Regions from separate parts of the Homo sapiens genome. Here region 2 is linked to region 1. Evidence: fine-mapped expression QTL. A gene starts in region 1. The other region holds a variant in brackets. All regions are shown on one strand. Distances are from middle to middle.

Region 1 (5,376 bases):
ACTTATAAGAGATGCCACATAAGAATTTTGACAATTCAGTCTTGAAGTCTGCTCACTTTGACCCAAACTTTTTAAGCCAGTGACATGCAGAGGGTCCACTGGGGCTGGATGAAATTTCTATGGACAGAGATGTCACAGAGCTGGGAAGGAGAGAAATAGCTCTCCAGTCAATGTGACTGAGAAAAATTAGTCATATCACTCTGAAACATGTGAACTTGAGGGTTAAGGATGCTGGCATGCAGGGAAGTCATGTGTGCAGCAGAAGAGCTGCAGGATGTCTTCTCTTTTGTGTTAATGTGAGATTACTGAGGACAAGAGAATAGGTCCTGGGAGATGTGGGTGTATTTGCCAATTTCTCACCACACATAGCCTCCTCAAAAAGCCCCCAAAGATGGCCAGGTGCAGTGGCTCATGCCTGTAATCCCAGCAACTTGGGAGGCAGAGGTGGGTGGAGCACCTGAGGTCAGGAGTTTGAGACCAGCCTGGCCAACATGGTGAAACCCCGTCTCTACTAAAAAAAAAAATACAAAAAAAAATTAGCCGGGTGTGGTGGTGGGTGCCTGTAGTCCCAGCTACTGGGGAGGCTGAGGCAGGAGAATCACTTGAACCCAGGAGGCAGAAGTTGTAGTGAGCCGAGATTGCGCCACTGCACTCCAGCCTGGGTGACACAGCAAGACTCAGTCTCAAAAGAAAAAAAAGCCCCCAAAGATGAACTTCACCTAGTTGTAAGTGGTCTAATAGTCCTCCGTCTCTCTCTCTATATATATATTTGAACTTCAAAACTAGTTTTTTCGAAAAATATTTTTTAGAGCCAGGGTCTCACTCTGTCACCCAGGCTACAGTGCAGTGGCCCAATCATAGCTCACTGCAGCCTCAAACTCCTGGGCTCAAGTGATCCTCACTTCTGCCTCCTGAGCAGCTGGGTCTACACGTGCACACCACTGCGTCTGTAACTTTAAAATTTTTTGTAGAGATTGGGTCTCGCCATGTTGCCCATACTGGTCTTGAAATCACGGCCAGAAGCAATCCTCCCCCCTTGGCCTCCCAAAGTGCTGGGATTACAGGAGTGAGCCACCACATCTGAGCCACAGGGCGGCCTCCATAATGGGGCATGAGCCTCTTCCCATCTTTTTTTGTTGTTGTTATTCGAGACAGTCTCACTCTGTTGCCCAGGCTGGAGTGCAGTGGTGTGATCTGTGCTCACTGCAACTTCTGCCTCCAGGGTTCAAGCGATTCTCCTGCCTCAGCCTCCCAAGTAGCTGGGATTACGGGCACATGCCACCACACCCGGCTAATTTTGTTTTTGTTTCTGTTTTTTTTTTTTTTACTTGAGACGGGGTTTCACCATATTGGCCAGGTTGATTTCAAAACTCCTAACCTCAAGTGATCCACCCACTCCGACTCCCAAAATGCTGGGATTACAGGCATGAGCCACCACACCCAGCCCCATCTCTTTTTTTTTTTTTGAGACGGGGTCTAGTTCTGTTCCCCAGGCTGGAGTGCAGTGGCGTCATCACGGCTCAATGTAGCCTCAACCTCCAGGGCTTAAGCGATCCTCCTGCCTCAGCCTCCCAAGTAACTGGAACTACAGGCATGTGCTAATTGTTTTTATTTTTAGTAGACACGAGGTCTCTCGCTATGTTGCCCAGGCTGGTCTGGAAACCCAGAGCTCAAGCAAGCCTCTCACCTCGGCTCCCAAAGTCCTGGGATTACAGACGTGAGCTACTCTGCCTGGCCCTCAAAAAAAAAAAAAAAAAAAGTCAGTTGACAACCTATTAAACTGATATCTGTCACGTTAATGGGTCATGACTAGCAGTTTGAAAGACAAAGCTCGATTTCACTGAATTTATTTCAGCAACAGAAGTTATTAGCTTTAGTCCAATCTCAAAAGTACAAAATGAAATTGCAACACAAACCTCTAAACCTGCAGTTGCCGGAAGCTAAACGTCTGCGCTTCCGGAAGCAAATTTCCAACTACCACTCCTCTGGAAGCAGGACCTGGCTTCCTCCCTCCTCTCTCCGCCCACCCTCGTCGGCGTCTGCCCCGCGCCCGCCATAGCGACGGCAACGGGCGCTGCGGAGTGCTCCGAGCCGTGAGGGCGGGGCCGGCGCGATGCCCCGCCCCTTCGATAGCTCATCTTTGCGCGTCGCAGTCGCGCGGAGCCCGGCTTCCGACGTGCAGCCTGGCAGTGCAGTGGTGAGTTGGAGCGCAGGGCCGTTGGGGATTGGGGTCATTAGGGCCGTTGACAGTCCAGGCCAGAGGGCGAGTGAGCGAGGTTGGGCCCGAGGCTGCCTGTAAGCAGGTCCGTTCAGGGATGCTCCAGGCCCTGGGGCCTGAGGGTGGCTTCCATGGCTCCATTTGCCCTGGCTGTTCCTCGGTGTACGGGGCCTGAGGGGAGTGGGGGAGGCCCGTGGGTGGCCTCCTTTTGCGTCCTGAGAATGTTCTGGGCAGTATCGAGATTAGGGCTGGTTTCTCTGCGGAGGAGATCATTTATCCGTAGCTGGGAGGGCTGTATTAACCGAAGTTTTCCAGTAGTGGGCCACGCTGTCTTAGGTAGCGTGCTGGACAGATACAGACATCACTGGACGGGTACAGACAGAGGCTGGGTTCGCTTTACGCCAAGTACCGTGCAATACTGTGGGCTGTTGACTTGCCTGAGTAGTTTCATAGAGGCATCTGTAGTGTTCCTTGGAAACACTGAGTCAGTGATGAATTCTGCCTAGGAAATTTAGGGAAAAGTTTCCCAAAGAGAGAAGATGGCAAGAGAGGGCTAAGGTCTAAAGTCTCTTAGCTCTGACCTTCATAAGACCCTGAAGTAAGAGGTAGTGTATCTTGGTAGCCTATACTATAGCTTGTATCCACCTTTTAGTGTCCCTTGGGGAAGCTTCCTTAACCGCTTCTAAGCCTCCCTTTTCTTACTAGAAAAGTGGAACTGATAATAAAAAAATAGTAGTTCCCCCCTTATCTGCGGGGTGTACGTTCCAGTGGATGTCTGAAATCTTGGATAGTGAAGGACCCTGACTGACTTACCGTGGTTTGACTTACAATTTTTCAACTTTACATAGGTTTATTGGGAAGTAACCCCATTGTAAGTTGAGGAGCATCTATACTGTGTTTTTTCTCATACAGATTACACATACATACCTGTGATTACTTAGTTTAATTCGTAAATTAGGCACAATAAGAGAATAACAACAATAATAATAAAATAGAATTATAACAGTGTAATAAAATGTATGTGAATGTGGTCTCTCTCAAAATATCTTACTGCACTCTACTCACCTATTTTTGGACTACGGTTGACCTCTGGAACTGTGGAAATCAAAACCTCAGCTAAAGAACTACTGTACCTAGTAAGCGGGGTTATGAGGTTTCAGTGAGCTAAATCTTTGTGTATTACTTAAAATAGGACCGGATTCATTGTACATCCTCAAATGTGCACTCATTGATAGAATCACACCCTTGTCTTTTGGAGCCCGGGTTTTTGGAAGCTGGCTTACCGCAAGCCTTCCTCCTTTTTTTGTTTCTATCCATTGCCAAATGTGAGGCCCAGAATGACAGGGAAGAGGACAAGCCTGTGCTTCAGCAGGCAGAAGGCTGTGCTGAAGCAGAGGTTGAATACCATTCCCATTAGCCAAACTGGCTTGAGCACTTTCCTGTCTTTCCTACCCTGGGCAGAAAGAACCCTGTTCATGGGTCACAAATGAATAAAACACTACCAACCTGTCTGTAATCCCAGCACTTTGGAAGGCCAAGACAAGAGGATCGTTTGAGGCCAGGAGTTTGATACCAGCCTGGGCAACATAATGAGAACTTGTCTTTACAAAACCAAAACAAAACACTACCAATTTGAGATCTTCATAGGCAAGGATTAGTTATAAATTGTTTGTTTGTTTGATTTCCTGTTATTGGAAAACCTTCGGCAGCTTTTTAGGCTGGCAGATTTAAAGAAAGTAACCTGAACCTGGATGCCTTAACTGTGTGGTCCCTTAAACTGCCAATGGGTAGAATTGCGAGGGCCGTGAACTTGGCTGAGAGGAAAAATTGCATCTTTATGTTTCCTAACCTCCAACTGAAATTTAGCATTTTCTTCCACTGTGAATGTAGGCAACAAATCACATTATTAGCAGTGTGACTTTGTTATGAATATAAATTATAGATATTTTCATATCATGATATTGTGTAAGCTCATTGCAACTTCGAAATTATGGTAGTTATTAAATTTGCTTCTAGATCACATATATAATGTGTCAGTAAAGAAGCACATATGTTTTTGTATTTTGATAAAATTTTAGCATACAGTCTATCCTCATTATTTGTGGATTCTGTATTTATGAATTCACCTACTTACTAAAATTTGTCTGTAGCCCTCAAATTAATACTTACAATGCTTTTGTGGTCTTTGGAAGACATGACATTTTTTCACGTGAAAAATTTTAGTTGCCTGATGCACATGTTCTCAACTGAAGTCAAACAAGGTGACACTGCCTTCTTGTCAACTCTCATATTGTAAGCAAATGTCATTTTTGCAGTCTTTGGTGCTACATTTTTCTCATCTTTGTGCTTTTTGTCGGTGATTCCACTGTTTGAGATAGCCCCCAAGCATAGTGCTGAGGTGCTTCTAAATGCAAGAAGATTGTGATTTGTCTTATGGAGAAAATATGTGTGTTAGATAAGCTTTGTTTAGGCATGAGTTCAGTATTAATGAATTACTAATGTATATTCAGTAAGTGCCTTTAAACATAAACACACATAAAACATGATTATGTATTGATTGGTTGACAAGAATGTGCCCAGAGGCTTTCAGGAACCTGTTTCCCCAAGGAACAGTGGTTCTGTGTTGGATAATTTAGTGTCTGTAGCGACTTCATAGAACATAATTGTTGTGAATAATGAGAACCTACTGTAATTGGTTTCATTTCTAAACCTGTGTATTTTCTGTAAAGACATCCTGAGCCTGAGTCTGGTGGCTCATACCTGTAATCCCAGCACTTTGGGAGGCCAAGACAGGAGGATTGCTTGAGCCCAGGAGTTCAAGACCAGCCTAGGCAACATAGGGAGACCCCATCTCTACAAAAAATTAAAATATCCAGACATGTTGGCACGCACCTGTAGTCCCAGCCACTCGGGCTGAGGTGGGAGCAAGACTTGGCCTGGGAGGTTGAAGCTGCATTGACCATGATTGTGCCACTGCACTCCAGTCTGGGTGATGGAGCAAGACCCTATCTCGAAAAAAAAAAGTCCGCCAAAGGGGGTCTTTGGCACACACAAAGAAATAAGAACCATTAGCCCTTAATGTAGCCTGAGAAATTAGATCTATCCTTTTTTTTTTATTTTTTATTTTTATTTTTTAAGATGGAGTCTCGCTCTGTCAC
Region 2 (5,376 bases), 20 kb after region 1:
CAGAAGGATTTAGTTTTCTTTACAAGTAAGCACTTTGGTGGGAAAGCATTGCAAAAGTTGTCAACAGAAAATCATTAAAACCCTGAAGAACAAGGTGTGAGGGTCACAGGCAAACAGTTATCAGCATATGATTCAAACACTGGTTTGTCCTCACCACAGAGCTTGGAAGGTTCAGAAAACTTCCAAGAGAGATGATCAGACACTCACGTTCCATCCACTGAAGGGCACAGAACAGTAGGAACTAAGTTGGCCCTGTTAAGCAGGCACATGCAGCCATGTCCGATCCACGGATGTGCTTTTATTCTTTAAGAGGATCATCTAGAATCCTCAGAAATGTTATCTTAGCAGCCCTGAGATCATGCCCTCAATAACTCTGCCAAGGGAAGAGGGGAGAAACCACAGACCTAGAGATGAGTCAGGATGCCCACTTTGTGCCTTGGGGTTTGCTAGGGGGGCTAAGCTGCTAACTGGGCTGTGCCTTATTGGTGACACTGAATTATGGCAAAGCCACTAGAAGCACAAAGTATTGGTGCAATCACTGACATCTCAAAAGTATATCCTGAAAATAGAAATGAACAGATTCCATATGCAGACTAGAGGTGATTTATACTTAAAACATTTAAATATAAATTAAGCTATAACTTAAGTTACAACCAAAAGAAAAGCCAAAAAGACACTCAGCAATTAAGAATGCTGAACACATACACAGGACATCCCAAACACAAGGCCATTAAAGCGATGTCATTTTCATTGTGCCAACTTTACATTCATCATGTGCTAGTCCGGTGGGGCCACGCTGCCCCGCACCACGTCATGCCGTCTGGCACTGCACTCCAGCCTGGGGCCCGTCTTCGTCCTCCTCGTAGGCCTCCCTGTGCTGACGCCAGTTCTGCTCATTGGGACAAAACTCCTTCAGCTCCACCTGATCCATGTCATCTGTAATCCTCACTTTCTGTCGAGGAGGGAGTAAAGCTTCCAGCTGAGGAAGCTTTTCCAGAGAAAGCCAGTGTTTTTCAGGAAAGATTACCTGTAAAGGGTGAGGTGGGAAAGAAAGGTGGCTGTTTTTTCCCCTTCCAATTAAGGCATTTAATAATATGTCCATGACAATGAAACATAGTGAACTTACTAAAAACTGTATGATCAGAATCCCTTTTTCCAGGGGTGCTTTGTAGATGGGCATTCCTTCATCGCGCACGCATCTCAGGTCCCCGTGCTTTATCACCTCACCTGCCAGAGAAAGGGTCAATTAGGAAGGAGGAAGGCAGAGGGGCCTGCAGAGGTCGTTCTCCCTCATGGGAGAGCCTGCGGCAGGCCCTAGTGCCCCGTGGCAGTGGGCAAAGGAAACGTGGCATCTGACTGGAAAGCTGGCCCCAATCCCAGGTATCCTTGTCAGGTACTGCCTGGGGAAGGGGCTCAGGCTGAGACTCTGGCCTGTGCTCTGGGCTCCAGCAGTGTGTCAAGAGGGCAGCATGGTGCAGCTGCCATCACAGGTAGGTTTAAAACAAGTGAACTAGAAGTCATGACACCCAAGTCTGCCTAAAATGGGGCCAACACCTGTCACCCTGCCTCTTTGTGGGGTGACAGGTATCCCTACCACGAGGGGGACAGGAGTGCTCCCCACAGACAGGAAGAAGCCTCAATAGAGTCCAACCAGTCCCCTGCCTGGCATAAAAACTGGCTCTTGGCCACCTGCAGGTGACACCCAGGTTCCTTGGTAGGGAGCTCACTAGGTGGCTTGGCCACTGGCAGACTCCTTCATGGTCACAATGCACTTCCATACATGCTGCTGAGCTGGAGTCACCCTCCCGGCTGGCACCCGCTGGGTCTTACAGCTACGTGACTTTGGAAGGCATCAGAGGAGTTCAGACCCCAAGAACTCTAAGGCGTTCTCCCAAGTCAGAAACTTCCCTCTAAGCATGGAAAAGGAAAGGGACAAAAGGGTTTCTGATAAAGCATGCTCTTCAGCTCAGCGATGAAAATGGACAAAGACAGAAAGAAATGTTCGGAAAAAATGGGGGAGACGGTGGAGGGGAATGGAAACACTAATTTCTTCAGCAGTCCACTTCCATACGGGACTATGTAGAAAGTGAGCTGTCTCTTCAAGAGGAAATCTTTAAAGAGGAGGTTTTAAAAATAAAGTAAGCCAATGACTATCCTTGAGATTCATTCGCAGGCAGGGCTGTGGTTCAGACATGGCCTTCAGAGCCTACTGACTGTGCAGGACAGCAACCCCTTAGCTAAACTGCTCCAGGCTGCTGGCTTTTTGTGTTCCTGTTTATTCTTTTTTTTTGAAATACAGTCATGGCCAGGCACGGTGGCTCACGCCTGTAATCCCAGCACTTTGGGAGGCCGAGGCGGGCGGATCACGAGGTCAGGAGTTCGAGACCAGGTTGATCAACATAGTGAAACCCCGTCTCTACTAAAAAAAAAAAAAAAAAAAAAAAATAGAAAAACTAGCCAGGAATGGTGGTGTGTGCCTGTAATCCCAGCTACTTGGGAG[G/A]CTGAGGCAGGAGAATGGCGTGAACCCGGGAAGCAGAGTGTACAGTGAGCCAAGATCACGCCATTGCACTCCAGCCTGGGCGACAGAGCGAGACTCCGTCTCAAAAAAAAAAGAAATACAGTCATGCACAGCATAGTGACCTTTCAGTCAACAACATTTATGAAGATGGTTGCAAAGATTACACCAAACTTTTACTGCACCTTTCCTATGTTCAGATACTCACATACTCAGCATCGTACTACAACTGCCCACAGTATTCAGTACAGCAACCTGCTGTGCAGGTTTTAGCCCAGGAGCAACAGGCTATGCCACACAGCCTAGGGTGTAGCAGGCTATGCTATCTAGGTCTGTGTGAGTACATTCTATGGTGTTCACACCACAACGACATCGCCAAACAATGCATCTCTCAGAACATATCCCCTTCGTTAAGTTACATATGACTGGTTTTTCTGTCTCCCCATTCCTATCAGGTGTCGCTTCTTGCTGCTCTCAAGCCCTACTCCCCATGCTTCTGCTTCTAGCTTGCTGGGAGCTGGGAAACTGACCAAGCATGGAAAACTACAGGTAAGAGAAGAAGACCACGAGTTAGGCTCTCCCGGCAGGTAAATACCTGCCTGCAGGCAGGGCCATCACACCCTTGTGTGGCTCCAAAATCACTTTTTTAATTAATCCAATCCTCAGCAATGCTCATAACAGGCTAAAAGGCTCTGGGGAAGAAGGCATTTCAACAGCAGAAAAGAGGAAGAAGAGGGAGAAGAGAAAATGGAGAAACAAGAAATAAGCCAACACAAAAGAGGGGTGAAGAAAAGAGAGGGTGCAAAAGAGAACAAAGTAAAAACAAAAACAAAACAAAAAGGACAAACAAATCCCCAAAGAACTCTCCAACGGCAGGTTTCCTGGATGCTCCACCCTTCCTTATAATAAAGAAGGAAATGGATTTCTTGGGATTTGCCACTTCCTTCCCTCTGGGGCTCTTTCTCCACCACCCTCACTCCATTTGGCTCCCGGCTCCCTAGGCTGGGGTCAGCTGAGACAGCAAGGAACGCTGGCTCTTGGTGGGGCCCAGGACCTCAAATAGTCCACCCCTGGACAGGACAGGCTTTCCCAAAGAAGTTACACACAGATGCTTCCCAGCCCCGGCTCAGGAGGGCTAGGATCTGGGCTGTGACCACGTAAGGGCATCTTGGACACAATGCCAGGGTGTTGAGCTCACAACCAGTGGTCTGGAGCTTCGTGTAAACTGTGATCCTCAAACTCCTCCTTGAGGGAGGAAATGGGTGCCTTGGGAGGTCTATGGAAGCCTAAGGGAAGGTGTTTTATTTTAAATTTTCATGCAAATTTTGCATTATACTGCAGTGCTTCCCCCAATCCTGGATTAAGTATATGTATAAAAACACACACAAGTCTGGGCAACATGGCGAAACCCCGTCTCTACAAAAAGTACAAACATTAGATGGGCGTGGTGGCATGTGGCTGTCCCAGCTACTCGGGAGGCTGAGGTGGAGGTTACAGCGAGCTGAGATCACGCCACTGCACTCCAGCCTGGGCGACAGAGCAAGACCCCTGTCTCAAAAAATAAATGAACAAATTTTAAAAATAAATAAAAACAGACACAGATCAAATGACAAACCAAATGGGGTAAAATGTTAACATCAGACAAATCATATATGGATGGGCCTCGGACTATTTTTATATTTACAACTTCTTGTAAGCTTGAAATTGTTTCCAAATAAGTTTATTTTAAAACTCCACAAACCGATCAAGGCTTGGATATATAATTCTGCTTCCTACTATCCCCAGGAAAGGAGGAACCTGAAAGAATCCAAGAGAGGAAAGAGAAAAAGAGCACAAGGCTGGGAAGAGAAAAGCAGACAAGGAGGGGAAGGGGGAGAGGGACACGGAGGGAACAGAAGTCCAGGCCTCAGTCACCCCACCAGACTTGAGTCTTATCTCCAGCTGCCACTGCCCTGGGGGCAGGCTTATTGGTGGTTACCTCCCTGCCTGCCCTGAACCTACCCCTTTTGCACCAAACCTCAAATGGCCATAGAAAAAGGTAATCCCAGCCCCACGGCCAGTGAGGGGACTACAGCAACACTGCAAATGGCTGGTGCTGGGGCCCAGGCTGCTTCGGTGGCGTAGCCGCCACCACACCCATCCAGACATTCTTTGCTATGCACAGCTGACCTTAGTGCTATTCAGAAGCAGCTTCAAGTCAAGGTCCCTGGCCTGGCCTCTCTCCCTTCTCAGCCCCTTCTAGGCAGGTGCTCTGGTGCCCACACAAACCCTCAACTACAGTGAACACACCAACCCTCCTGGGAGATGAGTGCCCTGGTGTCTACAGGGGGGTTGGGGGCTGAGCTCAGGCCTCAGGAACCCTTTCGGCCTAGAGGCATCTCCCTCTGGCTCCCATGGGTGTGTGCAGACCAGCAATTCCTGTGGAAACCTCCAAGGATAAACTGATAGGCAAAGTCTTTCTTACAGGAAAATTCTATTTTAAAATGTAACTCATGTAATGAACAACAGAGGCTACAGGAACATGTGGATGAATCAGCACAAATCACCACTTGATAGAAAAACACCACCTATTAAGCTGTTTTCTTATACAAAAATAAATTTTTAAAAACTTAAGTTTAATTGCCAGAATTCATCTAAAATTCAGAGCCCCAAGATTCTTATTTGAGACTTTCCCCCCAACTGAATATTTTTTCTAGGAGAATATACAAGAACTTTATAAATTATCCAGAGTTATTAGGGACAGTTTTAAATTTAGAGAAAATCACATCATACTAATTTGTGTAACAGAATTTGACCTTAAATGTGAAATCAGGGGAACTATTCCCAACACAAAGAAATAAATACTCAAGGCGACAGATGCC

Evidence for each region. PIP is the estimated chance that this variant, and not a neighbour inherited with it, causes the effect. A credible set is the group of variants that fine-mapping cannot tell apart.
Region 2: its variant is the best candidate, but not a certain one, in a credible set for the expression of SKIC8 in T cells (TOPMed, PIP 0.85).

What each region holds. Positions count from the first base shown.
Region 1 is chr15:78,296,383-78,301,758 of GRCh38, reverse strand. SKIC8 (SKI8 subunit of superkiller complex) reads left to right here and starts at 2,150. Exons shown (of 11, transcript NM_025234.3): 1 at 2,150-2,197. RefSeq lists enhancers at 1,753-1,842, 1,018-1,984, 2,083-2,432, 1,985-2,952.
Region 2 is chr15:78,275,896-78,281,271 of GRCh38, reverse strand. It overlaps DNAJA4 (DnaJ heat shock protein family (Hsp40) member A4), which reads right to left. Exons shown (of 7, transcript NM_001130182.2): 6 at 1,127-1,227; 7 at 1-1,027. The coding sequence ends at 812. LOC105370910 (a long non-coding RNA gene) reads left to right here and starts at 2,472. Exons shown (of 2, transcript XR_932500.3): 1 at 2,472-3,064. RefSeq lists an enhancer at 4,351-4,645. The variant G/A (reference allele first, on the strand shown) is at 2,501.